3 separate regions of the Homo sapiens genome follow, and regions 2 and 3 are each reported to be linked to region 1. The links are microRNA targets in miRTarBase. Many come from high-throughput screens and were not tested one by one. Region 1 holds a microRNA gene; each other region holds the end of a gene's coding sequence.
Evidence for each region. Region 1 holds the annotated microRNA hsa-miR-4276 (CUCAGUGACUCAUGUGC, at 3,432-3,448, shown strand). A microRNA usually pairs through its seed, bases 2 to 8, with sites in the 3' UTR of a target mRNA and lowers its output. Matches are read on the target gene's strand: a 7mer-m8 pairs with bases 2 to 8, a 7mer-A1 pairs with bases 2 to 7 and ends in A, and an 8mer does both.

Region 2: the mRNA of RCAN1 is a reported target of hsa-miR-4276. Seed matches in the 3' UTR shown: 7mer-m8 at 5,882-5,888.
Region 3: miRTarBase lists STARD13 as a target of hsa-miR-4276. Seed matches in the 3' UTR shown: 7mer-A1 at 2,559-2,565.

What each region holds. Positions count from the first base shown.
Region 1 is chr4:174,420,374-174,428,482 of GRCh38, forward strand. It overlaps MIR4276 (microRNA 4276), which reads left to right and starts at 3,422; the gene lies at 3,422-3,491.
Region 2 is chr21:34,511,980-34,520,088 of GRCh38, forward strand. RCAN1 (regulator of calcineurin 1) reads right to left here. Exons shown (of 4, transcript NM_004414.7): 4 at 4,463-6,277. The coding sequence ends at 6,105. KCNE1 (potassium voltage-gated channel subfamily E regulatory subunit 1) reads right to left here and starts at 231. Exons shown (of 4, transcript NM_000219.6): 1 at 48-231.
Region 3 is chr13:33,099,030-33,107,138 of GRCh38, reverse strand. STARD13 (StAR related lipid transfer domain containing 13) reads left to right here. Exons shown (of 14, transcript NM_178006.4): 13 at 205-381; 14 at 1,429-4,002. The coding sequence ends at 1,546. Among named protein-coding and RNA genes, the nearest start is that of KL, 87 kb to the right of the region's middle.

The sequences.
Region 1 (8,109 bases):
ACCTACCTTATCTTTTGGCCTGCAAACCAGACCATACCCTGTATGCTCAGCGTATCCTCTACGCTGCGGGAAGAGTGACAGCAAGAAAGTTAAATGCTGATTTTATCACCATGATTCTTCAAAATCCCTCAACTCTTTGCAAAAATAAAAGATAACACCCATTGTCGGTAAGCATGCTAGAAAATGGCATCTCACATGCCATCATAGGCATGAAAATTGACATTTTTTCAGAAAGCGACTTGCCTCTATACCAAACCCTTTCAATAGTACTTCTTGCTTGACCCAGCAGTGCCACTTACATGTATAATCCTGAACTAAAGGAGAAAATGTGCTCTGGATTTCTGGCAAAGCTTCCTTTAAGAGCAAAACCCTTTTTCAACAAGTGGTCATACGCTAGGAGAAAAACAATAGGAAATAATAATAATAAAAAAGAGAACTACCTTTACTGGTGCCAAGAGTAGAAAACAACAATCACATACCATAAAATCAAGGAAATATCATCCAAATCTAGGGAAAATTTAATTATCCAGAAGGCACCAAGACTGAGAAAAGAATGCATCATTGTGGAAAATAAGTGGAGAACATTTTGGTGACAGTTGGGAGAAGTATCGTTGGTCCCAGCTGACTTGGGGGACAGTCTCATTTGCTGCCCATGGCCTCAGATCAGTATCACTGCAAGGCTGTTAGAAGCACGGCTGTGGAATAAAGCATGTAGTCAAGCCACACAATTCTTTGCTGACAGAATTTGAAGTAGGTTTAATTTTCTTCTCTATGTTTTCCCCATTTTCAAATTTCCAAAGATGAAAAATTAATTTGACAGCAAAAAAACAAAAAACAATAAAAATAATGGTGGCTTCTTAATTCCTTATTTTAATGGGCAAAGTTATTCCCTCTCTGTTTATACTCCAGATATTCCACATGTGCTAAAACATTTAGAAATCTTCTAAAATACGATATGTTCTTTTTCCCTTCCATATCTTTGCAACTACTTTCCCCTGCAACCGTCTAGGGAGTTCCTTGTAATTATATGTCACTCAACTGAAAATTTACCTTCTTTATGAAATATTCTGTGATGTCTGTGTGCATGATTACATATTTCCACTTTTGTGTTCCCACTGTACTCTGTCAGCATCTAAGTTGTGGTACTCACCACACCAGTAAATTTCTGTGTACATTTCTCTCTCCTGTACCATGAGAGCTCTAGGACTGCAGGAATTGTTATTTTAAACTTTGTATGGAATTTAGTAAATGCTTATTGAATCAACTCATAAGAAAATTGGATGCTAATATTTTACTTTCTTCAGTTTCCTCATTGGGTTTAGTGGAGAAATTTCTCACAATATTGCCTGAAGGACAAGTTTGAGTACAGGTACATTATTCTTACATATTTTTTCTTTTTATATTTGTCATTATATGTCCATTTCCAGTGAATAAGTGTTTAATTACATTTGTTCATTCCATATTCACATTCCATTTACTGTTCAGAATGTGGAGATCATGTTTCTTGTGTTTGACTTGCTTCACACATGGGAGAAGTTGCATGCATGTGAATTCACTTAAATTATTTCACAAAGCAGAAGGGCACGGTGGCTCATGCCTGTAATCCCAGCACTTTGGGAGGCTGAGGTGGGTGGAACACTGGAGGTCAGGAGTTTGAGACCAGCCTGGCCAACATGGTAAAACCCTGTCTCTACTAAAAATACAAAAATTAGCCAGCATCGTGGCACAGGAGCTGCCTGTAGCCCCAGCTACTCAGGAGGCTGAAACAGGAGAATCGCTTGAACCCAGGAGGCAGAGGTTGCAGTGGGCTGAGATCGTGCCACTGCACTCCAGCCTGGGGGACAGAGCAAGACCATGTCTCAAAAAAAAAAAAAAAAAAAATTCACAAAGTGATGACTGCATTTTCATTCCATCAAAAATAAAAATTATTAGAGTTACTAATTGTATTATTTATCAGATGTGGAAGCAAAAGGATTTTCAATTCACTGTGCAGAGGAGGTATGCTTATAGAGACTCAAGAAAACAATCTGATTGTTTTAATTTTTCTCTAAGCTCGCCTGCCAAAAAAAGAATTCTGATCTGGCTCTTAGATTTTAGTAGATTAAATTTATGGAAAACAGGAATATGGTCCTATGCAAAATGTTCCGGTAAAAGTTTTTATGCTGATATTGAGTGAATTTTAAGCTTATTTAGTCTAAAGTAAAACACTAAGTTTTTTCCAGAACCTCAACTAAACCCAAATATTTGGAGAAAAAAAAGGAAGCAAAAACAAATGTTCAATTGTATGACAGAAGTTAATTTCAAAAATGAATGATGAAAGATGTTGACTTTTTTCTGTTATAACAACATATAACATATAATATTATAGCAGTAATATTATAATGACATAATTGTTTTCATTTCTTTTAACAAAATCATTAAATTGGTCCTTTCCACGCTTTACTACAAACTCTTTCAATTGTCTTCCATTTCTTTGACAAGCTAGAAGGGTCTAGATGTTTCTCATGTGGTGAGCCCTGTCAAACACTTTTAAGTTTGCATTTTTTTCCAGATAAATGTAACAATACCCATAAATCACACTTATTTGGATTCTTATCTAATATTGCATTGCAATAATTGGAAATAAGGCAAAAGCTTTTTGGAAGGTATGCAACACTTTACTCTCAAACCTCAGATAAAATCTAAAACCTGTGTGAGACTAAACTGAAAAGAGGAAGAGGGAAAGAAGGAAACATATTCAATGGAGGACACTGTGCTAAAATGTAATTTTACATTTCCATTGAATCCTATTTTATCAAAACCTGCATTTTTAGTTTTAATTTTGATTCATAGTGTGATTTGGGAATCATTGAAATGACACATGTTAAAGATTACAATACAAATAACACAATTTGCACTTCCAGTTTGCAGAATTTCCGATTTGGCAGTTTGCCAGCTCTTTGAATCTAAGAGAAACAGGGAAACAAAATTTCTGCAGAAGTGTTACTTCTTTCCAAAACATGATCCAGACATTCATAGAACCATTGAATTCGCTATTGCTATTCTGACTACCGGAGAAATACAACCTTTTTGCGTGTGTGTGTGTGTGTGTGTATATGTGTGTGTGTCATGTGACATTTGGCATTGGGGCTGGTGGAGGAAGATAAAACAAAACTGCATGTCTTGCCTGTTTTTCTGTTGAGTCTGACATCTGAGGTGTAAATTCAACAAAAATTAGACATCTCCTTAGATAAGATGACTCTAAATAAATATTCTATTTATAGTTCTCTGCTGACATAAATATAGCTTGCTTAATCATGCACGTATCCTGGAATATGTGTAAAGCCAATTTTGCTAAAGTGATTAATTTGTAGACTGTGTATTTTTTCTTATGTGTTCCTTGAGTCAATGAGTTAAATAATGGGATATGCTGTGGGCATGTCACAGTCTGACTCAGTGACTCATGTGCTGGCAGTGGCCACGTAAATAGAGCTACTGTGTCTGAAAGCAATGGGTAGCTAGAAACCTTTTTGACAGCTCATATGAAAACTTAAAGAATTTCAAAACAGGCTGGGTGTGGTGGCTCATGCCTGCAATCCCAGTACTTTGGGAGGCTGGGGTGGGAGGATCATTTGAGCCCAGAATCTTGAGACCACCCTGGGCAGCCTCGCAAGACCCTATCTCTGCATGTAAAAACAACAACAAAAAATTATAATAGTAATAAAAAAGAAGTTCAAAACGAAAAATATTTGCAAGGATTTTGTTTCTGGGTTTTTTGATTTTGTTATTAGATTTTTAATTAAAATAGAATAAAAACCTGAACTTCAAAATCAAGATCTGCTTATTTGGAAATTTTGTCTGTTACTCAAGTCTGTCCTTTTAATTTTTCAGAATAAATTAATATTATCTATTTCTAGATCTCCTACATTGCAGTTTCTTCCAGATTAATAACAGTATATTTAAAAATTATTTTTCAACAGAGCAGTGTACCTTTGCCAGGCTGTAGTCCGACATGATAAGATAATGGAATCGTATGTTAAGCAGACTATCATCTTGATTCCAAGAATTCATCTAGGAAAATTACTTAACAATTGATGATTTTGAATTATTTATCCTGAGAGATTTTGCCAAATCCCAAAGTAAAAATCATTGGAATTACTAATAGTACTAGCAAGCATATGTACTACATAGGGTGCTAGGAAACCTACTAGCTTTCTAGCCTTGTTGACTAGGTTTAGAACCTCACCTCTGCCAGTTACAAACTACAAACTGTGTGAAGTTAGGTCTAAGTTCTTTACCTTCTTTATCTTCAGTTCCTTATTTATAAATAGATAAAGTACTAATCATACCTATAGGATTTTTTAAGATCAAAAAACAGAATGCTATTTTTAAAATTTTCCTTACACCATACCTAGCATAAGTAAATCCTCAATTTATAGTAGTTTCTGCTATATTTTTAAGCTCATAAACAAAAGGACATGTTGCAGTTACACCTATTAATACTAGATGGATCAATAAAAACAGGTATTTTAGCAAATATAAAACTTCAATAATGAAAATCATATAATGACTGAAGAGTGTTAGTTTTATGATTTTTTTTCTTTTCTTTTATTTTCTTTTTTTTTTTTTTGGAGACAGGGTTTCACTCTGTTGCTTAGGCTGGAATGCAGTGGTGCAATCACAGCAGGGTCTCACTGTGTTGTCCAGGCTGGTCTTGAACTCCTGGGCTCAAGTGATCCTCCCACCTTGGCCTCCCAAAGTTCTGGGATTACAGGTGTCAGTCCCTGTGCCTGGCCAGTTTTGTTGTATTATTGTTGTAAACATTTTGGCAATACTGGGACAACTTAATTTATCAAAAATCAACAAAATGTTTTAAGAGCTCTGTATTGTTTTTGGCTCAATTAATTTGGCTTAAAAGCAAAAGATTGAGTTACCTGGATATGTTTAATTCTACCATAAACTTATTTCATAAGGATCTGTGGGGAAGCTTTGTAAATTTTTGTTTCCAGTTATCTAACTTCAGAGATTATTTTTTTAAAAGGAAAATATCAGAATTTTCTATTTTTAATAAAGTAGAACAAGAATTTTTTAAACGTTTTATTTTACCATAATTTCAAGTTTTACAGAGAGATTATCCGAATAGAACAAATGATCCTCATTTTATTCTTTACCTAGATTCACAAATTATTAACATTTTTGCTCTGGTTGCTTTATCATTTACTCTCTTAATAAACATTTTTTAACCTTTCGAACAGTGTGTGTTTCCTAAGAAAAACACATTCTCTTGAATAACTAGTAAAATTACCAGAGTAAAAAAATATATATACCATTTATATAATAGGAATACCTCTTCCAGAGCCAATATTCAAATTTAGTCCATTATCCCAACAATGTCCTGTGTTTTTTTTCCTGGTCTAAAATTTAACTCAGTGGTAAGAATTGTGCTTAATCATCATGTCCCTGGAGTGTTTTTAATCTAGATTAAATCCTCAGTCTTTTCCCTTATAACCTTGGCAGCTTGGAGAGTACCTGTTATTTTGTGGAATGTCACTCAGTTTGGGTCTGTCTGATATTTCCTCTGTTTAGAACCAGGTCATGCATGTCAGATAGGGAAACAGACATGAGACTGTACTCTTCTCAGCACATCACATCAGCAGGCAACATGATGCTGGTCTGTCCCATGATTGGTGATGTTAGCTACGATTGATTGGCTAAGATGGTTCTGCTAGGTTTTTCCACTGCAAATTTTTTATTTTCCCCTTAGTAATTTATAATTAATTTGTGGAGAGATACTTTGAAGATACCTAAATCTTCTTTATTCCCCAAACTTTGACCTACTCATTTAAGTACTCATTGATAATTTTTGCTTACATCAATTTTTATTGTAATAGTTCCAAAATGGTGATTTTCTAAGTCTACCATCCCTTCTACATTTATTAGCTGACATTCCACTTAAAGGGATAAGATTCCCCCAGTACTAATTTAGTTTTTGTTCATTTATTTAGATTTGGATGGATTAATTGATTCTTAGAGAACTCAATGATTAATAATCCATCACCAGGATTATTATCAGGACTCTTTGAGCTATCTCTTCCTGGGGTTGGCTTTAACTCAATTGTCCCTTATCTTTCTTGTGCATTTTTTCAGAACCCCTTTTCTTTGTGGGAATGACTTCAGAAGAGCTTCGAAAGTTAGCTATGCTGGAATTTGGTGCTTATTTTTATACCTATGGGTAATTTTCACTTGTAATATTTTTCTGTCTTCTAATTTTGCCAAAGGTGAGAATTTTGTGTGGTTTTATTCTTGTTGCTTAGAGGTTGTTTGAGGAGATTTGGGTTCAGGCAGCTGTTATTCATATACCTCAGCTGCTCAGGACTCTTGGATGCAAAGACTTTCACCATCTGGCTTAACAGTTCCTTTAACGAGGAGGAATCGTCTTGTTTGTAAACTAACGTGAGAAACTATATTTCAGTATAATGTGAAAACTTAACAGCATGGGTTATAAGAAAATAAAAATGAAGAAGAGCTATATTCTTTGTGAAAGTGATGAACAAATATTAGAAAAAGAGTCGTAGCCAGGCGCCGTGGCTGACGCCTGTGATCCCAGCACTTTGGGAGCCTGAGGCAGGTGGATCACTTGAGGTCATGAGTTTGGGACCAGGCTGGGCAACGTGGTAAAACCCCGTCTCTACTAAAAATATAAAAATACTGGGGCATGGTGGCATATGCCTGTAATCCCAGCTACTCGGGAGGCTGAGACAGGAGAATCGCTTGAACCTGGGAGGCAGAGTTTGCGGTGAGCCAAGATTGTGCCACTGCACTCCAGCCTGGGGGACAGAGTGAGACTCCGACTCAAAAAAAAACAAGTAGTAAAAAGAGTAAGAAAGAAGAGAGGAGAAAGAAACAGACATGGCCGAGTAACATAGCAGAGCAAATATCCATGGAGGAAAATGAACAGTAAGAGATTATTGAAGGCAGGTCAAATAAATGTAAACAGTGAGAAAGTATAATATTAAATTTTAAAATTTCAAAGGCCATGTAAATACATTTATGTATCATTTCAAATCATAAGGTAAATGTAACACATGAACAAATATTATGGGTGAGCTGTTTATAGGTTATTCAGAGGAATAAGGTTGCTTTTCATGTCCTGGTTGTCACAGAGCAGAGGGCAGGAGAATAGTTATAGGGGATCAGATGCCAATGACATCAGTAGTCTAGTGGAGGCAGGCAGGCAGAGCCAGAGTAACCATGAAGATATGAACCCCAAGGAATTCTCAGAAATGTTGATAAGGGTACTAGATTTCCCATAGAACATGGGATAGAGTTTTTGAATTGTGGGTTTAGAGGAAGCAGGCACGAGCTGCATGTAGTCTACACTGTGACTGAGAGATGGTCATTGCGCCATATATGTATGAACAGTCCAGGCAGGGTCAGAGAGCAACTCAAGTAGGTGGTATATAGCTGTCCTACAGGAAGGTGTTCCCTAGGAGGTCGTTGTGCAAGGTAGATATCTGGATCAACCACACTAAAGAATTAGGAGAAAGTGGGCAACTGGAAACTGTGTCAGGGGTGACTAAGCTCTGCTTCTAGTGTAAGTCCAACTTATATTTTGAAAGGATCGTGATGCAACATAACATTGTAAGAATCTACTACAGTATTACTTAAGTTTCAGTTTGTAGGCATAGTTTTGATCTTGTCATTCATCAAAGACATTTGTACTCATGTGAATGTTTTGATTTATTAAACATGCCTTCCTAATTAAGATAGTCCAACTATGCAGTAAATACTTGAATCCTACTATTCCTCTTTGTTTTGCGAGCATTCTCAAAATCAAATTCTTTACCTGTTCCTAAGATTTGTGCATTTATAAATGACCAAAGTCCTATGGTGTTTTGGGTGTATAATCTTCCCCTTTGCAGTTTTGGTTCTGTAATTGGCCTTCTGGAGAATACATTTATATATTCAACACATATCTGTGAAGTGCAGGAGTAATGCATGGAAAGAACATGTGAGGGATATATGTGTGATATTTTCCATGGAGTGGTCAGAAAAGCTCTCACTGAGAGAATGGGAGTTTTGAGTTAAAAAAACGAATAGGAAAGAAGCAAGGCAATTAGCCATACACAT
Region 2 (8,109 bases), not on the chromosome of region 1:
CCATGGGCCTTTCTGCCTGGCCTAGTATGGCTCTCCTTCGAACTCACCTAGACCCTTGCATCAAAGGACTCGGGGACTCTGCTGCAGTCATCCTAGCACGGTCGAGAGGAGTAGGAAGGTGCCCAGCGGCTCAGCCTTTAAGGAGGTCTATTGGTCACCATTGCTTCTGCCTTCTTGAGAACCATCACCCTCGGAGGATCCGGTAGTGTATCCCAGTCAAGTGTCAAATGCGTTGTTCCCTGGAGAGGAAGGCTTATTTCCAGAAAGTACTCTGACGTTTTGTAATTTGTGATTTCTATCACTGGCTCAGTGGCCTACCCACTGCTCAGCTCATGTGGCATGACCAGGCTGGGGCGTCGGGTCATCTTGTTCTCTGGGTGTGTGGCAACACTGGTTTATGGCGTAATTTCCTTCCTGAGAAGAAATTCAGTAATTTCTAATATTCAGGGCTTTAGGTAGAGGCCTGAAAATCACTCTCCATGCCTCTTTCAGTATTTTATATATAGTTGTCTCTTGGTATCCATGGGGTTTGGTTCCAGAATCCCCTGCAGATACCAAAATTTGCGAATGTTCAAGTCCTTTATATATAGTGGCATAGTATTTGCATATAACCTATGCATATCAGCCAATCATAGATGGTGATTTAAATCATCTCTTGATTACTTCTAACACCTAATACTATGTAAATGCTTTGTAAGTAGTTGTTACCTGGCATTTTTTTATTTGTTTTATTTTTGTTGTTGTTTCATTAATTTTATTTTATTTTTGGAATATTTTCAGTCCATTGTTGGTTGAATCCACAGATGCAGAAGCCTTAGACACAGAGGGCCGACCACACCTATGTATGCTGTTCTTAAAGTAGCAACATATTTGTTCTGAACATAGAAGAAATTAGTCGTCTATTAGACTTTAAGGGAGTAAATATGGTCCAAGTTGATTTTTAAATTTAGCAAATAGTCATAGACATATCAGTGTCTTACAGAAAATATTTATTGGAATGCTCACTCTCTCATTTGGGATACTGCTTTGCCTTGCTGTGTCTTAAGAATGTCATCAGAGCATCACACACTTGAAAAACGTTTTTAAAAGGATATGATGATAATTAAGACCTTCTCCCCAACCCCTGCCCATTATCCAAGATCAATGTTTTTTTCCTTTATCCTGATTTTAAAATCAAGTACACTTTATTGAGGCATACTTTACATGAAGCAAAATGTACCCTTTCTAAATATGATAAGTTTGATGAGTTTTCAACAGATGTATACAGCTGTTACCATGACTGTGTCTTTACCCAGGTTCTTGCATTGCTCAATCCAGATACAGAATGTCTCCATCACCCTGACAAGTTCCTTTGTGCCGCACCCTCTAGCCAATCATCTGTTTTGAGGAGAGTTTTAAAACAAAGGTTTTTGTTCTTTTTCACTGATGACCATAACCTACCACAGACAGGGTCTCTCTCTCTCTCTCTCTCTCTTTTTCCCTGTTCTTGCGCCAGCTGCCTGACAATTTGTGGGATTAAAGCTCTAAGCTGCTTACTGGCTCTTCTGACTAGGGAGAGGGAGCAAGCCTCATTATTTTTCTATTCTTTTCAGTGACTGCTCACTCCTCTTCCTCCAAAATCCCTATCCATCCATCCATCCATCCATCCATCCATCCATCCATCCATCCATCCAACTTTCCATCTACCCATCTATCCTTCCATCTATCCAATCCACTTGCGTGTTGAACGTCTACTATGAGCCATTGGCTACCAGGAATCCCACTTCCACCCAAATTATGTTTCAACAGGGAAGACAAACAATTTAACAATTACGATAAAAAAGAAAATATGCCATACAATGGAAAAGAAGGGGGCATGATGGGAGACCCAGCGGGAGTAGCTGGCAACGATTCTTAGGGGGAAGAGACATTCCTAATAGACACCTGCAGGAGAAATATTAAAGAGTCAATCATTTCAGTAGCGCTTATTGTGACCAATAATGCAAGAAGTTTCTGGGTTCCCAGGCTGATGGGTTTGAAAGTCACTGCATCATGAATGTGCCCAGGACCCACACGTTGTTTTGTAAGAGAGGGGTTCAGTAAAATGTGAAATGACCGACATTCAACAGGCAGAACTGTGCAGAATGCACGCTTTGCCACTGATTGAAAGTGTTTCTTCAGTAGGTTTTGATAGAATATATTACTAATCTGGTAAGAAACAGCTTAGGGCCACTCAAGAAAAGAAAAGCAGCCCCTAGAAACATGTTCTGTGGCTGGGCACAGAGGTAGCTGCTGGAATTTGAACAGGGGTGAGCAGGACCTCGTGGACCTCATTGTGGGGTTAGCAGGGCTGGGCTGGGACAATGAGATCATTTTCTAGGCAGAGAAAAGACAACATGGTAAGTTAAAAACACTGAAAAGTCTGCGCTGCCAGAGTACAAATGTCAGCCAGGAGGGCCCTGACACTCTTGAAAGAGGGATTTGAGCAGTGGCCACTGCATCTACTTGGCACTCGTTCGCTGTGTAGAAGGGTCACCGAGTCCCTCATCAGAATCCTGAAAGAAGGAGAAACGGTGGGCACAGGCAGCACACCTCAATCACTTGTGAATAATTTCCTTCTGTCTTTCATAAACATAGCTATGATTGAAATGACCTTTCACGAACAGCAGGGAAGGATTGTGGAAGAAAATGAGGTATGTGAGAAGCAAATCCATCTACCTGATTGCCATGTAACTTTCGGTGAGTCACGGAGTGAGAATTTCAGATGTGAATTAAGGATTGCCAAGAGTGGTGATATACTTGAAAAGTTTCCTCCACGTTCTACTCCCTGTTCTACTTTAGAATCAGGAGGCCAGAGAGGCAGGAGGGAAGAGTACTTGTTATTCATAGTGGACCTTCTTCCTGAATAATTTTTAGGGTAATTATGTATGCAGCTTCCACCTGAGTCACTGACCTTTGGGTGAATGTTACTGGATATGTACCTATGATACCCAGGCAAACTTTCTGCGGGTTCTACGGGCACTGTGAAGTGTGACAGACTTTGGCTGCGCGTTCACTTTTGATCATAACACGTCCATAGAGTGCTTTTAATCTCCTGCAACTTAACATATGAGAAAATCGATTTATTTTGTAGTGAGTTCTGCACATTTCACAGAAAATTAAAGCTCTCTGAAAACCCAAATCTTCTGTGGGCAGTAATTCACACACAATATTCTGGAAATGTAAAATCCCAAATGCCTGCTGACTTCAAATCAATGTTTATAGCTTGTGTCTGAATAGCTCCATGAATTGCTCCGCTCCTCTCCTTCTACTGCCCTTCGCTTTGATTTAGCCACTCATTTCCAGGGGCTGATTTTCTTTTTTTGCATGGCCCTAAGCTGTTTCCCATCAGATTAGTAACATATTCTATCAAAGCCTATTGAAGAAACACTTTCAATCAATGGCAAAGTGTGCATCCTGCATGATGCTGCCTGTTGAATGTCGGTTGTTTCACATTTGACTGAACCCCTCTCCTACAAAGCAATGCGTGGGTCCTGGGCACATTCATGATTCAATTACTTTCAGGCCCATCAGCCTGGGAACCAGAAACTTTGTGCATTATTGGTTTTACAATTTCAGCTGAGGCTTCCACAGAACAACTCAGAAGAAATAGGCTGTCCTGAGTGAGCCTTTTCCTTGACTTGTATTTTCTATTCTAAGGTCTATTGGCTTCACTGGCAGTGGGACCACTGACTTTTTCCCTCCTTTATCTAAGGGGACCTGTTGAGAGTCTCTATTTGGAAATATTTCCTGCCTGTCCTTAGTGGGGGTCAATGCCTGAATCTGTCCAATAATCAGATTTGACCAACTTGGTGGAAGTGTGGATTTTCCAGCACGATTAAACCTTGAACATATATGGCTTGAAAATGTGCAAATACTCTTGGAAATGACAGGATCATGGTTCTCAAGACAGAGAAAAAAAAGTAGCATGTGAATTTTCATAGATAAACGCCTAATGCTAATGTTGATCAGGATTAATGTCATTTCCTAGATTTCAGCAAATAAACACTGGGTTACTTAGGCCTTTGTGGGCTTCCCAGGAAGGTCACCACCATTTGAAATGAGACTTTCAGGGGAAAAGCTGCCAGAGATTAAACAGAAGGCTTACAGATGCATCTTCTGAAGATAACTTAGTATCTTCCATGGACATCTTTTCTAATAGAAAAGAAAGCTCTTCAAATGACCAAAACCATTGCTGTTTTGTGGAGGTGCTGGTGAACAGGGGTTTCATCACAGTAGCATCTACCTGTACAAACGAAATACTCGAAGTTCTGATTTCAGTTTTATCCATTTTCTTCTTTTGCAAGTGATGCATTCTTAGTGTGGTGGACTCTCCATGAACCACAGCACAGAATTAGGAGTTTCTAAGCTCAAATTGACAAAGGATGTCTCCTTCTGAATTTAAAATGTTTAAAAAGGTTTAAAAGCCTTTTAAACTGCAGAATTTAGAAGGTTCACAGATTTATTCTAGAAATAAAATGACAACTTTTCTGTAAGGAGCATACTGTGCCCATTTATTATAGAATGCAGTTAAAAAAAATATTTTGAGGTTAGCCTCTCCAGTTTAAAAGCACTTAACAAGAAACACTTGGACAGCGATGCAATGGTCTCTCCCAAACCGGCTCCCTCTTACCAAGTACCGTAAACAGGGTTTGAGAACGTTCAATCAATTTCTTGATATGAACAATCAAAGCATTTAATGCAAACATATTTGCTTCTCAAAGAATAAAACCATCTTCCAAATTTCCAAAGCATGCATTGTTACTTGGCATTAAGTATTTCAAAATGACAAACATTGTTACGGTATTGTAAGGCCAAAATATAATACCTATTTACCAGACATACACATTACAACTAGAAAAAAATTACAAATGTTAACCTAGTATAACAATTCCATCAGGAATGAATGGGGAAAGGCACTGCATCCCTCTCATATCGCCACAGATCTACTATCCACTTGACATGCTTTGAATTCAAGTCCTGTTAGACATGGGAACAGCTTTTCCTACAACATATGATTCACAGGTAGGTTAATACATCTTAGTCTCCCACTGCCATACTTTTCACCCAAGTGTACAACAGGTATGAATATATGCTATCAGCTTTATTTACAAGTGTATCTTGATGTCTTCGTGGGGTAAAAGAACCAACTATCTCAACCAACAGTTTCCAAAAAAGTTTTTGGCTATGATTCATGTATAGAAACCACCACATAAAAGAAACAACAGAAACTGAGGTCCGATCCCAAACACCTAAACTAAAATTTCTCACCCACTAAAAGTTGGCAGTGAAACTGCTATTCTCTGAATTGTATAAGCTAAATTCTACAGAGGAATTTCAGATCAACTTCTTTTGCAAAAGCACAAGTTACACGTTGCACGGTTGGGGATGCTGAGTGAATGCATTCCAGGAAGAGTTCCGCAAGCAAGTGCTGTTGCAAAGAGTCGAGAATCCGAGAATCTGGGAAAGGTGATACGTTTTCCAAACGCTTTCCTGGCTTCCCAAAAGATGTAAAACAACAACGGTGTAACTTTATATACGAACAAAGGTTAGTCTTGTAAATCAGTAATATACATGCACAAACATGAGAACATGAGGGAAGAAAGGAAACGCTACAATTTCCACATTGCATTGCTGCTGTTTTCACAACCTCTCTGCACTAGGCGGCTTCCTGTGGTACCTCTTCCTACCAGTAGAGAGTGGCCCCTGCAGGCCACTTAGAAACAGGAAGCTCTCTCCTGAGCTCACTGATCAACCTGCCCTTGGCACAGACAGAACCTACCAGAAAAGAACAAGTACAAAACACTATCATTATCTGTTTTCTCAAGACAGTCCCAAATGTCCTTGTGCGATCACCACAAACTCAGTGATTGGCCCAAGTCATTCCCGGGTGCCATGAACAGTAACTGGTGTGCAGCATTAGAACAAGGGGACACGGCCTTGATTCTCTTCTGAGCAACATGAACTGGGATTTCTGCCACCCCGATCTCGGCTGCCACCTCCGAAGAAGTCGTGACCAGCCACCTCCACAGTAAAAGATTCCTCCCGTGAGTATGATTTGGAATGCGTCCTCGTCGCGTGCCAGTTCAGCTGAGGTGGATCGGCGTGTACTCCGGCCTCCTGGTCTGGATAATTTTTGGCTTAGGTCTCCTCATTCTTTCCATTTCCTCTTCTTCCTCCTTCTCTTGATCACTCTCACATACATGGACCACCACGCTGGGAGTGGTGTCAGTCGCTGCGTGCAATTCATACTTTTCCCCTAAGGAGGGAAAATAATCGCAGGGTCACTCAGACAAGTCCTTGGGAGTCAAAAGGCAAACATAAAAGAGCATTCAGGGCTCTGCTGGGCCAGCTGCTCGTGACCATTCGATTGGGCTGAGAGACACAGCCAGACATATTTTGGGTTTGTATTTCTTTGCTAGCTCATTCAGAAAAAGAGAGATTTCCATTGTGCATGACTCTGTTTTTAGTCAAACATTCTGGGAGTCCAGGCACATGAGAAGTATAGAAGGAATGCATTTTTCTAGTTATACTTCACATGTCCACCAGATATCTAAACTACCCAGAGAACTCCCTTTCTGTCAGCATTTCCTCAAGTGTGAATGTGAGAAACTTCGGTTCAGGAAAAAGATGGATGAAGAAACGTATTTGGAAACAGAACCCTGGGCCTCCCTCATGCAGCTCCTATTTGAGGGTCGCAGTGCACGCCCAGGAAGGGCGCCACAGGAGGCCCTGCAGCAGACGCAGGGGTGGCTGCACGGAGCCAGGTGCTCTGGAAACGTTTTTGACCTGGGCATCTTTTCCTTAGAACAACTTCTAATCCCCGGGACCAGGAGTGTCCTGCTGTTCTATGTCAGCCTGAGTTCTACCAGGTTGGCCAAGTTCAGGCCACTCTGGTCCAGCAAGGGTGGGGAGAGCTTTCTGCAACTGAAAAACCCGGCAATGTAGAATGAAGGGACTGGGGCCTCCCGCTGGGGTGCCGCTCTGGCCACGGGAAGAGTGTGCATCTCTGGTGCTCATGAAGGCAGCTCTGAGCCTGGCTCCTTAGTACCCAGGGCTCATGGGCACTTTATTCTGCTTCCCTGTGCACCTCAGTTCCCTCCTCAGTAAAGGAGACGGTAAAGGTATTGACTTCATGGAGCTAACAGCATGAGTGAGTGCCCGAGGCAATGAGAACCCGGCTCACCACATGCTTGTCCAGCCCATGTCACCTAGAAAGATGTTTAAGAATGGAGACTGCATCGTTATTGGTGCCCTGCTGGGCAGGGATCTGAAATAGGGGCAGGAGGTTTGCTTCAACCTGCTCCACCCACAGGGTGTGGCCTCATGGTCAGTTTTCTTCCAGGGCTTTGTGCTTGGGATTTCTTTTCTTTTCTTTTTTCTTTTTCTTTCTTTCTTTCTTTTTTTTTTTTTTTTTTTTGAGACAGAGTCTTGCCTGTTGCCCAGGCTGGAATGCAGTGACAAGATCTCGGCTCAGTGCAACCTCCGCCTCCCAGGTTCAAGTGATTCTCCTGCCTCAGCCTCCCAAGTAGCTGGGACTACAGGCGCATGCCATCATACTCAGCTAATTTTTGTATTTTTAGTAGAGACGAGGTTTCACCATGTTGGCCAGGATGGTCTTGATCTCCTGACCTCGTGATCCGCCTGCCTCAGCCTTCCAAAGTGCTGGGATTACAGGCATGAGCCACCGCGCCCGGCCTGTGCTTGGGATTTCTTTGCAGTTCGGGTAAGCGAGGAGGCACCGCACCAACCACTGTGTGATTTCCGCCCGACAAGAGCGGCCCAGGAGAGCTTCCTACCTCCAGCCACACTGGTTACTCCTCTAAACCTGGAAGGTACTTTTACTGATAAGGAAGGTGGTGATCTTTTCTCTATCACATGTGGGACTGGAATGTTATTATAACTGCACTGAAAAAGGCAAAGGAGCTCAGCTCTCTGAGAGAGAGAATTCAGGCATGGGAGGTCAGATGGATTGCTGAAAATGCTGGTTAAGAGCCTCTTACAAATCTACCTCTTTGCAAGTCTCTTATCTACCTACTAATCATCGAAAATCCAGAAAGCTCAGGGTTTAGGACCATAATTTGCAAAATC
Region 3 (8,109 bases), not on the chromosome of region 1:
CCCAGAGCTGAGATCCTTGCTTTGAAATTCTCTGTATAAACTTTACACAAGCTTATGAAAGCCATTAGCTTAATCCAAGTCACTAGCATTGGAATCTGAGCCCAGGTTGTTGGCAGGAAAATATAAACACAAACCTTAGCTCTGTGTTCAGGTTCTTCTTCCTCCCTCAGTCATGACTCTGATGTGCGGATTGTTTTGCTACAGGACCTGGAAAACTGATTTGCCCAAAGGAATGTGTACCCTGGTGTCCCTCTCCGTGGAGCATGAGGAAGCCCAGCTCCTGGGTGGTGTGCGAGCAGTGGTGATGGACTCGCAGTACTTGATAGAACCGTGTGGCTCTGGCAAGTCAAGACTGACTCACATCTGCAGGATAGACCTGAAGTAAGTGCTGACTCCCTTAATGGCAGGCTCAGATCTTGGGAGTCTCAGCTTGTACAGCACATCCAGCAGGGATGTCACCCTGATTTCTTATTTCACTGTATTTGTTTCCTCATTGCCATTAGTGTGCTTTCATAGGTGGATATGTATGCCTCCCCTCTGTCTTTCCCCCTTTCCTGAAATTCTGACATTTCTCCTGCAACTGTTTGTCTTTCTTTATTTTCTGTTTTATGCCTACTTATATTTCTGTCTTTCTCCCATGAAACACACACCAGAAACAGAGCCTGACACATAGTAGGTACTCAGTAAATCAGAGTTTCCCTCTCTTGTGTTTCTTTTTGAGACAAGGTCTCACTCTGTCACCCAGGCTGGAGTGCAGTGGCACCATCAGGGCTCACTGCAACCTCCACCTCCTGGGCTCAGGTGATCCTCCCTCCTCAGCCTCCCCAGTAGCTGGGACTACAGCTGCCCACCACCACACTCAGCTAATTTTTGTATGTTTTTGTAGAGACAGGGCCTCGCCATGTTGGCCAGGCTGGTCTCAATCTCCCAACCTCAGGTGATCCGCCCACCTCAGCCTCCCAAAGTGCTGGGACTACAGACATGAGCCACCGTGCTCGACCATGTATTTCTTTTATGCCTGTCCCCTTTTGCTGCTCCCTCTGGTAGTTCTTTGAGAAGTAAGTAACTTACATCCAACCCCTTCAAGGCATTCATGATGCTAAACCCAGTTCTTGGTCTGGGTAGACAAAACGGAGTTTTCACAGTAAATTCTGGATTTCATCTGAATCTTTTCATTTTACCCCAAGATGTTGGTATCATTTTAAAGCACCTGATGAGTACTCAAATGACAACATGAATACTTAGCAGCCAGGACGTTTTCAAGGCCCCTGATGGCAGAATGACGTCCTGAGCCCCTCAAGGCAGCAGCCCGAGCTGTCTGCAGGTTCACTGGTCATCGGGGCCCAAGGGCAGCCCTGTCCACCAAAACTAATTGCTGTGATTTGGAAACAAACTTTCCCACTTCCTTTCTGATTTCTTTCCCCACAGAGGTCACTCCCCAGAATGGTACAGCAAAGGCTTTGGACATCTGTGTGCAGCAGAAGTTGCCAGGATTAGAAACTCTTTCCAGCCCCTCATTGCTGAGGGCCCAGAAACTAAAATCTGAGTTTTGCCCAGTGTGACATCAAACTCAGGGAAGAGGAAGCTAAAGTGACGAGTGTGGCAGAGAGTGTGCATGTGAGAAAGCGAGAGAAAGAGGAACTGAAGGACGCGGTTAATGCCTAAAAATGGAAACGTTAAGAAGTTGGAATGTTGGAGATGCAAGAATTTCCAAGAACTTTCTTAGCCTTCCTGGAGATGGCTACATCCCTACTAATATAATTTTAAAATGAGAACTTTATATATATTACTTAAAATTAAATGGACTATTCCTTGTGCATTGCCTAATTTGCTATTTAAAGGCTTCTAAGAAGCGTATACCTAACTGTAAATAAATGTATGTATAGCATATGTACATATGTGTGTATATCTCCATCTTTACTGTATATATGTAAAATACCAATTTTATATAGAATTGTGTGTTTTGAAAATGACGGTGTCTGACTCAGTGAGTCCCTTCCTCACACAGTTCTTTCCAAGTGGCTCTGGGCCCCATCTCTCCACTGTCCTGTAAGCTGTGCAGAACCTGCTGCTAACACCAAGGTGTGAACATGCCCTGATGCCTAACCAAAGATGAGTTAACCAAAGGAAAATAACATTAAAGGAGACTTATGTGTTAACGCTTTGTTTCTGCTATTCAAAAACTGAGAGTGGAGATCTGGGATAAAGCAAGGAAATAATAATTACTCCTCCTTAAAGCAAATGGGGGGGTGAGAAGTCATTACCAAATTTAAAGCTAGATGAGGAGTTGCCACTGGGCCCAGTAAGATGGAATTTCAGTGAGATATGGACCACCGGAGTCAGCGAGAGTGACTGAAACAGAAGCGATACCTCTCGCTCCCATGCCCATCACTACAGACCCCAAGTCAAGATGAATATCATAGCCTTTACTTCTTCACAGCCAAAGGGAGCCCCTGTGTTGTCTCAAGTTTTTATAAATACATTTCATAATGTTATTAAATGTCATTCTATTTGACCAGTGGCCTATTTGGTCACAGTTAATTGGTGTTTTCTTATTGCACTGAATTCAACTCCAGACACCATACAAAGGGAGATGATGGCCATTCCGTTCAAATCCTAGATCGTTACAGCTTCAGGGAATTCATATTTTGTTATGTGTAGGATACTCTTAAAATGTAATTCATTAAACTTTTACAATCTGAAAGACAGGGTTTTTAACTAACATGAGACCAAAACTATGTTCTTTGATTAGTTTTAGATAGTATAATCGGGTTTATTAATTCTTCTGTGTTTCTTCACTAGCCAGTCCAAGCTACCTATGCATTTGACCCAACCTTATTTATTATTGTACAGATGAAGCGAATTGACTCCCTTTAGCCAACTGCTAATGGATCGAATGTGCTTTTTATTGTAATTCAACAGCTATAGAGAGAAAGATAACTTATTGTGTGTTTGATTTCAGGGAGAGAGATTTTCTTTGGTCATCCATAATAGAGATTGATAAGATTTAGCAACTGGTGTTGGAGAAAAAAAGAAAAGCAAATGAGTGTTTTCAGGTTTTTTTGCATTATATGCATTTATGTAATGTTTCTGTTATCAGCAATGTGCAATTATTTTATTGAGAGGAATAAAAAAGCTTTCTATGAGTTTGGTATGGTGCGAGGAAAATCTTACAGTTTGAATTATGACCTAGAAATTTTTCATTCCCATATCTACCTAAGAAGGAAGCAGTAAATCCATAATTTACCTTTTGGGCAATGCTTTGTGAGCAAAACAAAGTCACTTCTGCCATAACATCTTGAATTTAACCATATATGCCAGATTACTTTATATGCATCAACAAGATCACCAGTGAAGTTTAATCTAGCTAAACACTGGTCCTGCTCCTGAGATGGGATCCTATGTGTTTGGAAAACGTGATAGGCACACGAGGATGAGTGGCTTTGTATCGCCCAGAGAGGTGCTTGTCCAGATTTCACATGCACATGAATTGCCTGGGGATCTTGTGAAACTGCAGACTCTGCTCCAAGTAATCTGGGCTGGGCCTGAGATTCTGCATTTCTAAGGAGTCTCAGGGATGCCTATGCTGCTGGCCTAAAACCACACTCAGAAACGAGGACCTAGAAGATCCCTAAAACAGAATAAGAACAAATGTGATTGTATTTCTGATTCTCCCTCTCTTCGAATTATCTGACTTTTTTGTTTTTGTGCACATAGTAATCATATCACCGCTGCATAACAACACAGTGCATCTTTTTAAAACAAGGAAAAGGGAAAAAAAGGAGAAAAAACGATGCATCAAGCTTGTTTGTCAAATACCACAGTATTTTATTCATTGTTATCTTGCCAATGGAAATAAAGTATGATATTGCATTTAAATATTATATTTATACCTCATGTATATTTTTACCTCAATTGTTGATATCAATCATCAATTGTAAATAAATAATTGCCAAGGCAAATAAATTTATATATATTAAATATTTCCTATTTTCTATAAAATAGATGTTGATTTTCATGCTTCATCTTTAAATGGAAAATTTGCTTCATGAGGAAGATTTCTCCCAAGATAGCCTGCCATGACTTTGACTCCTTGGTACCATCTGTAGTCAATACTGTCTTCAAATACAAAGAAGTTGTTGTCAACAGACATTCACTATCAGGCTGGGTGCCTTAACCTGGATCTAAGGGATTAAAGTGATGGGTGGGGATTTTTTTTTCTTAAATTTCATTGTCCTTAAATCTAGAAGTTATAATTCATAATTTTTTTCATATTCATAATATTTTTATCAAAGGTTTAGTAAACTCTTTAGCTACATTTTATTTTTGTTAAGTGGACAAGAAATCAAGATATGATGAAATGACTTACAGCCGCACTACTAGACCATGAAAAGTAGCCACAAATGACTCTAAATCTCTTCCCTTCTACCCTTGAAATCTGAGCATCTCTTCTAAATATCAGCCCAGAGAGCCCTTAAGAAAGCCGGGGCTCTCAAACATTCTCAGGCACAGGCTTCCAAAGCCACAGAAGCCCAGAAGACTGTATGCCCCTACAAAAGTTGTCCCAACTCTGCTCTCTTATCTCATGCACACCTTCCCCTCTTACTTGCAAGTTTTGCTTTCATAGTAGGCAAAGGGGGAATTCAATGGCGCTTTTTCTCTTCTACATGAAGGAAAAGAATGTGATGGTCATTCTAGCAGCCGCAGGCTACAGATGTCCTGAGAGTATGGATCATATGAATTCAAAGGTGATTCTTGCTAATTACTCTGATCTCATCACCATATATGTATCAAAACATGCAGTGACTATGTACCCCACAAATATGTACAATTATTATTTGTCAACTAAAAGAACTTTGAAAAGGAAAGAAAAGTTTTTTACATTATTCCAAACACTCTTCATGAAATTCTTAGACATAAAATTGTTCCACCTGTGTCTTTTGATATTTGGTTACAGAAAAACTGGACATATGGTTCCTTCTCAGGAAGATAAATGTAAAGGTTTAAAACAGACCCCAACCAAATGGAGTGTCACATTCTGATACGAACGCAAAGTCAATGTGTGCTGACTGCACAAGCAGTGAATAAACACCTGACCTTGTGACACTGGAATGTTGCAAAGTCATGAAGTTTAAACAACTGATGATGTACAATTTTTGACATTCCATAGGCAGACTATATCCCTTGTAGTTTTTCTTAAAGACAGTGTTTACTTTCATTTTAATAATCCCACTCTTCAGCCTCCTAGATGTCACCTAGTTTATATCCTTCTGGTGCACAGCTGAGGCTCAAAATTCCCAGCAATATTGTATCTCTGCAGAAAACTTGCTTGCATAAGACTTTTATTCACTCAGCACACATTTATTCAACAGTGAATAAGAGTGGGACACAAGTAGGCAGAGGCGTTAATACAAAGAAGACATAATGTGGGGGCAGAAACTGTGATATACAGTCAATTTTCATTGTTTGTGGTAGTTCCTTTCTGTAAAGTTGTTGCAAACACTGAATTAGTGAATACTGAACCATTGCTCCTAGCAGAAATACAGGATTAGGTTCCTGTGAGCCTCAGGTCACAATATTTTTGTCAACCCACCACTACATAACCTTGTTTTATTGTGTTTCTGTTTAAGACACCTTATTTAATATATAGTTCTTATAAGTTAGTTATCTGCAGTATTTCTTTATAATAAAACCCTAGCAGAGAAGGATTTAACATTTCCCTGATGCTGGGTAACATAACTGTAAATTTCTTGGGCTTTCAGCCTCTCAACAGTACTCTTTTTACTACACTTTAAAAATCAGTTGTCATTTTATGAGTCCACAAATTTAGCTGTTTTTCTGTCTTTTCCATAGTTTCTTCATGCACTATAAATATCACTTCAGCACTTTCCAGAACAGCCTCATGTACATATTGGTGAACTTCCTTTTCTGGATGTACTATATTGTTGATTGATTAACAATGAACTCACACCAATAGCCCTATAACTCAAGCATGAACGAAGCTCATCTAACATACATATTTTCTCCATGAGGCATACCCCCAGCCTTCTTGTACTTAGGAACATTAGACAGCACTTTAGTGCAACATCTGGGGGTCATTTGGAAAGTGAAATTACCACCCAAAAGCACAAAAATTTGAAAAAAATGGCAATTAATAGACTGTAAAAAGGGCACATTTATAGTATGTGAGCCGAAACAAGAAGGAAGCGAGCACACTGACCTCAGCTGGGAATGTGCATTCACATCAGTGACTCCCATTTGTTGACACTCTGAAAATGCCCAAAAATGACCATAAAATCACTGCATGTATTGATCTGAGGGTTACAAATAAGTGTTAGTGAGTAGATGAATTCACAAATGTAGAATCCACAAATAATGAGAAGGGTCTATACATACAACACCCAGTGACAGATTACTGTGAATTCTACAAGAGCCCAGGGGAGTCAAAGGACAGGACGTCTCACCTGAGCTGGAAGAGCTTGGCCTTTATCTGTTAAGCAAACTAGAGCCAAGAGGCAGAGAAATGAACTCGCACTAGTTTTGCTGAAAGAGATTTAAAATGGACTTGGAATCCATTAAAACAGACTTGGAGTATTAACAGTAAAACAGACTTGGACTTAAGACAGACCTGGAGCATTACTAGGCACAGGAGCAGGGTTGTAAAGTTACACCCGTCTTTGCCAGTGTTCTTCACCCGTTTCCACATTAGATGTATTAGAGGTGTCTCACCACCTGCCATTCCTGAGCTGAAACTAATCCATGATAACTTCCCTTTCTTTTCATTTTATAACTCACTCCTTTCTCCTATTTAATGTAGAATATTTCAGAAAACTTGGCATTCATATGATTAACCTCAGAGAAGATGCTTTTAAAACCAAAATAACACCTTCGATGCTACACATGACCCGGAGAGAACCAGATCAGTCCAGGTGTTACATGATCCTAAGATGCCAAGAGCTGATAAGATGAGATTACTGGTGAGATCCCCAAGAACAAACCCCAAATCAGCAGGAAAGTTTGGGTTGCCAGGCTCATGCCTCCCTCTCTTGTTATCATGCCCATTGTTTGTCACAGGAGGTAGGCTTATCCCAGTGATGAGTGAGTGCTAAGCCCAAACCCCTCCTCACTGCCAGAGGAAGTCTTTAATCGGCAGAAGCTAAGCTTGAGTTGTCAGTTTGCCTCTGCCCACAACTCCAGCATGGCCAAGACATGGAACTAAAATCCTTCCCATAGGCCAGACTAGTCTGTCCTTTCCTGGCTAGCTGGCTAGCTTGGGCCCCTGAGGGTGCAAAGGAGATGCTTTGGGTTGGTAACCTGAATGACTAGTGGTTTTGTTGAGGATGGACTGGCATGATGAAGGGCAGAGTGATCTGTGAATCCAATTAAAAGACTGTTGTAACAGTCTAGGTGAAAAATGCTTGTGGGCAAAGAAGTGGATAGCTTTTAAAACATATTTCAGAGCTATAATAGAACTAATAAGATCTATATACTAGCTTGTTTTGAAATGGTGGGGGAAAGGAATTATCTCAAAATGACTCTGGATCTTCTAGCTTGGAAAAACTTTGTGGTAAATTATTTAACTGATATAGAGACAAAGAAGAGGAGAAGCAGATTCGTGGGGGGCAGCAGAGCAGGGAGAGAGCCAGGTTAGAAAGGATGGCCAAATGAGCTCTGATCACACAATGCTTGTGGTGACTGTGAACCATCCAGGTGGAGATGCCCAGCAGCATCTGGGCATATATATAGGTCTGTGATCGTTAATTTTGTGTCAACTTTGGTAGATTATGGGGTGCCCAGATTAAACATGGTTTCTGGGTATATCTGTGAGGGTGTTTCCAGATGAGATTAGCATTTGAGTAGACAGAGTCAGTAAAGTATAGTTGATCCTTGAACAGCACAGGTTTGAACTGTATGGGTTCACTTATATGTGGATTTTTTTTGACAAGTATATTGTAAAAATTTTTGAAGATTTGTAACAATTTGAAAAAACTCACAGACCGTGTAGCCTAGAAATATTTAAAAAGTTAGGTATTCATGAATTCATAAAATATATGTAGATACTAGTCTATGTTATCATTTCCTAACATAAAATATATACCAATAAATTAT